Linked DNA regions of Homo sapiens: region 1 is linked to region 2. The links come from fine-mapping of genetic effects on gene expression. A gene starts in region 2. The other region holds a variant in brackets. All regions are shown on one strand. Distances are between the middles of the regions. Region 1 has its middle 66 kb from the start of SIMALR. Region 2 holds the start of PERP (p53 apoptosis effector related to PMP22).

Region 1 (2,913 bases), 96 kb before region 2:
CCCTATAATGGAATATTTTTACAACCATATTTTTAGAGAATATATTATTTTACTAGTGGCATAATAACTAAAGAAAAAAGTCAGCCCGGCATGGTGGCTCACGCCTGTAATCCCAGCACTTTGGGAGGCCAAGGCAGGTGGATCACGAGGTCAGGAGATCGAGACCATCTTGGCTAACACGGTGAAACCCCGTCTCTACTAAATATACAAAAAAAAAGTCAGCTGGGCGTGGTGGCGGGCGCCTGTAGTCCCAGCTACTCAGGAGGCTAAGGCAGGAGAATGGCGTGAACCCAGGAGGTGGAGTTTGCAGTGAGCCGAGATCGCACCACAGCACTCCAGCCTGGGTGACAGAGTGAGACTCTGTCTCAAAAAAAAAAAAGAAAAGAAAAAGAAAAAAATTACAATATAAAACCTCAACCTTTTAGGAAAAAAAAATGCATAGAGAAAAAGACTACAAAATTTTATGAAATTGTGACTGTGGTTCTTGCTAGGTAGGGAAAATACCATTAATTTTTATTTTTTAATTAATTATTTTCCAGATTTTTAAGTAACCATTTTTATCATCAGGGAAAATGTTACTTAAAATCTAAAAATGGCAGCCACAGTGGGGGCTAGCCTAGAAGCAAAGAAATCAGCTCCCAAAAACTGTCTGTTTTGCTTCTGGGCCTTTGTGCTGTGTAACCTAGAGTTGGAAAGTAATATTCTTAGGACATTCTCAAATCTTGCTCTTCCTTCCCACCAAAAGCATTGCTATGGGCCTGGCATGGTGGCTCATGCCTGTAATCCCAGCACTTTGGGAGGCCGAGGCAGACAGATCACTTGAGGTCAGGAGTTCGAGACCAGCCTGGCCAACCCGGTGAAACTCTGTCTCTACTAAAAATACAAAAATTAGCCAGCATGGTAGTGAGTGCCTATAAGCCCAGCTACTCAGGAGGCTGAGGCAGGAGAATTGCTTGAACCCAGGAGGTGAAAATTAGAATGAGCGGAGATCATACCACTGCACCCAAGCCTGGGCAACGGAGCAAGACTCCATCTCAAAAAAAAAAAAAAAAACAAAAACAAAAACAAAAAAACATAGCTATGGTGCTATTCCCCCATAAAGCATGTGTTGATTCTCTGGAGTCCCACCCTGGCATTCGTAGCCTTAACATTCCTCGGTGGGTTTTGACTCTGCTGCCTTCTTTAGCCCAGCATTTCCCACTACCTTGGGTGAGCCCCTTTCCACCCTCCTTGGGGGTAAGAATTCATATATTTTTGATAACCCTGGGAGCAACATGATGAGTGTTTGTGTTCCACGTCTGTCACAATCCCTGCCACGACTACTGTTCCAGCCATGGTTTGGGTCATGGGACTCTTCATTACCAAACA[C/T]GGTGGACTGGGTTGGACAATTGCTCAAGAGCAGTTATTCAGTGGAGTGGCATTTTCAAACTGAGCCAGGTCCATCCATTTCTTGCCCTTGGGGACTTGAATTGGGAAGTACAGAGAGAACCAGACAGTAGGAGCTAAAGTTGGAGTGATGTTTAGATGAAGGTAGGAGGTCATGTTGTGATCACAGCAAGTCATGGCCAAGCAGCAATGAGAAGGCAGAAACTATGAGTAGGCAGATTCAGTGATGTATGCAGGAAAAACATATGCTGAGTAAAGGGGTAAATGAGATGTACTGAGAGGCAAACAGAGCAGACCCCCCCCAGAAAATAGCAGACTCCTATAAATGGAGGAGAATTAGAGTGAAGTTTCAGAAACTCCAGGAGTTGAGGTTCTTAGAGACCGCTGCCTTGACAGAATACTGGCTGGTCTACTGTTTCTTATTTTGCGTTTTGGTTCATCTCCCTGTATGCTATGTGTTTCCTTAAACTAAGATACCCTACCTCCCTTTGTACTTCCGTTAACCTAGGTTACAAACGTCTCTGTTTCTTAAAGTCAGAAAGACTGAACTTGAATTGATTGGTCCATCTATTTACTTGTATATTCCCTTATTCATTCTTTCATATATTCTATAAAATATAGTGAAATTGTGCCAATATTCTATGCACTAGGAACAAGATGATATATGGTACAATACCTGCCCTTAATGATTATTCAGTATTAGCCCTTATGATGGTGATAGAGAGAAAAATATGAGTGACATTTAGAAGGATAGAATGGGTACAATTGAATATGGGGGGTGGGTGAAGAGAATATAAGGAGGGAGCAGGAGGAGAAATTTAAGATTATGCTTCAGGCTTTGCCTGGGTCATTTAGAGAATGACAATGTCATTCTCAGAAATAAAGAATTCTGGGGCTGGGTGCAGTGGCTCACGCTTGTAACCCCAGCACTTTGCGAGGCTGAGGCAGGCAGATTGCTTGGGTCCAGGAGTTCCAGACCAGCCTGGGAAACATGGCAAAATCCCATCTCTACAAAAATAAAAATAAAAACTAAAAAATAAATTAGATGTGGTGGCACACACCTGTAGTCTCAGCTACTTGGGAGGTTGAGGTGGGAGGATTCCTTAAGCCCCTGGGAAGCAGAGGTTGCAGTGGGCTGAGATTGCACCACTGCACTTCAGCCTGGGTGACAGATTGACACCATATCTCAAAAAAAGAAAGAAAGAAGAAATTCTGGAATAAGGAATGCTGAGTTTAAGGACATCCAGGCCGGGGTGTCCATTATATGCAGCTGAGGAAAGAGATTGTAAACATACATTTCAGAACAATAAATATCACTAGTACTATTTGCATCTATGGCTTTTACAAAGAAAAGAAGGCTGAGAACAGAGTTCTGGGCAACACCAACATTTAAGTGGAGGCCAGAGAATGAGATTTCCTGGAAGGGGGCCAAGTAGGTGTGATCCAAGTAGCAAGAGAAGAACCAGGAAGTAATATGTCATAGAAGCCAAAGAGTACAAAGAGAAAAATATAGGCCGAAATGCCTGC
Region 2 (2,913 bases):
TGGGTTGGAAGCCCTGGGCCACTTCAAAGAAAAAAATCAAGTCAATGGTAATAGTAAGAAATGAAAACAGGCAGGGTAGCTTGCTGTCTGTGTTTAAAACTATTAAACCCGGTAGGTAAAGCCCATTTGGCTTTAAGGTTTTATTAGGCTCTCACAGACCCCATCTCCACCCCCACACACATTGCTAATCACAGTAGACCCCAGCTGTGATTCCCATCCACCCCCAGGAAAGGAGAGGGGGCTTCCCACTGTGAAAGAAAATGCCTTCTCAGACAAGAACTATGCTCCAGTCCTGACTTTCAGCAAGGCAAGCAGGGAGCTTCCTCCATGCTGGGAAAATGGCATACAGTACTTCACCTGCTAGGTACATTAAATTTGTCAACTCTGCTTCACGTCGCGAGTGTAGGGAATGTGTTTGCTTTTTAGATTTCAAATCGGATTAAAATAATTAAGTTTTCTAAACAACAATGCCATGCTTAAACCAAAGGACACGCCCTAGAACAAGAGCTAACAAGAACTAGCCTGACCGGTAAAGTAGACTGAAATATCTATTGAAAACGTTAACTGCTAAAACTGCCTGAAAGGGCTTTTTTAAATGAGAAAGTTTTTTCAGCTATATCAAGTTGAACGAATCCACTGATATTAGGGAAGGCACGTTATTTCAATATTTATATTTTAATCATAAGAAGAAACGAGAAGGAAGAGAAATGGGAAGAAATTTCAGGTCTCCAAGAAACTTTGTTCATTATATTTACTCATCTAAACTTGCAATGCTTGAAATAATCTTTCGTACGTAACCGACAAAACCCAGGAAAAAAACTATACAGTTTGAACTACGGCCTTTTTTTTTTTTCTGTTTCTGAGCTTGGTGTTGGCCACCCAAAGCTACTGCTGCTGCATTTGGTTCAGGTCGGATGCATGAGCCCGAGCTCGTCCTAAACAGGCATTCTGAAAAGCACTGGCTCCCCCGACCCTGTGAGGGCCCATCACGCGCGGCGGCTTTTGCAGGCCGCGGCCCCGAGGGCTTCCTGGAGGCGGCGACGGCGGCGGCGGCGGGCACTCACCGTACTCCATGAGGCTCTGACAGCCCTCCTCGTAGGACCCGCTGCCGCCGCCCTCTTGGGAGCATTTCCACCACAGCGAGGACGTCTGGCCGTGGTCGCTAGACTGCAACCAGCCGCGGCCGGCCAGCGCGATGATGTCGAAGGCGATGGCGCTGAGTAGGAGCAGGGGCAGGATCCAGCGGCAGCGCTCGCAGGCCAGGCCGCAGCGGATCATGTTGACGGGCGGCGCGGGGCCGAGCGGAGCGGAGCGGAGCGGGTCGGAGGAGCGCGCGGGACGGGCGACAGCAGAGAGTGGCCTGCGAGCGCGGGCGCCGCCACAAAAGCGAAGAGGCCGCGGGGAGGCGGCTCCCGAGGACGCCGCTCCGGGCGGCCCCACCTAGATTCCGGTGACTCAGAGCGCGCCCGCCCCGACCTGCCCTGCCGGGCCGGGGCGGGCGGGGCCGCTGGTAAACAGGCTGGGTTCTGGTGACACCGGGCGGCGGCGGAAGGCGGCCCGAGGGTCCCGCGCGTCCCACAACCCTCCAGTCCCGCTCTCCTGGCCTCTCCAGGCGCGTGTTTTGTCTTCCTGGCGCACCAACATATACACTTGTTTATCTGCACAGCGCCAGCCTAATATCTGACCCCTGATGTCGCATCGTGGGGCGGTGGTCAGCAGTGCCATATCTGAGTTTTCAGCAGTGTGAGATGGGTGTTCTAATTGCACCTGTGGATAAAGGCTGCACTCCTTTGGACGCGTGCACCCAAACCCAGAAGCCCGTCCCTGACCCCTGCTGACACAGGTGATCCCTTCCTCCTAGGCTCCGCCTTTGCACCTTGGACCGTGGCTCCCCGGGTACTCTTATCTCTTTGCATGCTGTTCTTTCCTGCTGGGTTGCCAGATTTTGGAAAGCGGAGGCGATGCTGAATTTATCTGTGTATCCTTAGTGTCCGGCACCGTGTTTGGATCTCAAGGGGAGCTCAGTGAATTTGATGAATGAACATGTAATTTAACAAATGCTCGCTTCCTTTCGGAAAGGCTTCATCTGGCTTCCCCAGATAATTTCATGTCGCCTCTGCTGCAGTCCACTTCCTATCACGAATCTCTACCTATTTAAACTGCACTCTCTCTACTCTTCATTTACTATTTTGAGGTTTTTCCAAATAAAAATCATACGTCAGCATGCAACCTGCATTTAGGATCCCCCCTTCGGTGTCCTGGGCTAGCTCCCGTCGCAGTTCTGACTCCTAAGATGTGACAGGAAGGGTGGGGTGGCAGCCAGGTGTGCCGCTGAGGACAAAGGAGTTCTCAGTGTCAGGCACCTCGGTGGCCTTGGGAAAATCACTGAAACATCGTATGGGGGTCATGTCTTAACCCTGTACCTCCAAAGATTTCTTCTGAATCCCCTATTTTTTCTGTTAATTTAATATAAAAGTGGGAACTACTTAAAAATATTTTAAATTGTATTCCAATTTGATATTCTCAATAGAAACAGAATACTCTTTTGACTTATGCCATTTTCTGGCAATTCTTGAGGACGAATAAAAGCATGGAGAAAGTATCTGAAAATACATGAAATAATTTCCCTAGCCTTCATTTTACATAATTCAAGTTTTACATAAACCACGTCATATATTTTTATTACAGGAAAATATTTTCACTTTCAAAGAACACAAGAGGGTGTTCTGCCAAAAGTTAATTTTGTATCGTGGAAGCTGTGTGAAGAAAATGGTGATATTTATGTTCTCAGGGTTTTCAAAAGTAATGAAGATATTTGTTTAATTAGCTATGTATAATATATTTGTGAGAAAAAAAAATTCTTATAAGTCAAATACTGACCAGAAGCAAAGTGGCTTCAGACAAAATGAGAGT

Evidence for each region. PIP is the estimated chance that this variant, and not a neighbour inherited with it, causes the effect. A credible set is the group of variants that fine-mapping cannot tell apart.
Region 1: its variant is the best candidate, but not a certain one, in a credible set for the expression of PERP in subcutaneous fat (GTEx, PIP 0.76).

Annotation. Positions count from the first base shown.
Region 1 is chr6:138,010,028-138,012,940 of GRCh38, forward strand. No RefSeq gene overlaps it. Among named protein-coding and RNA genes, the nearest start is that of SIMALR, 66 kb to the left of the region's middle. The variant C/T (reference allele first, on the strand shown) is at 1,369.
Region 2 is chr6:138,106,063-138,108,975 of GRCh38, forward strand. PERP (p53 apoptosis effector related to PMP22) reads right to left here and starts at 1,357. Exons shown (of 3, transcript NM_022121.5): 1 at 1,065-1,357. The coding sequence starts at 1,278. RefSeq lists a silencer at 1,486-1,535.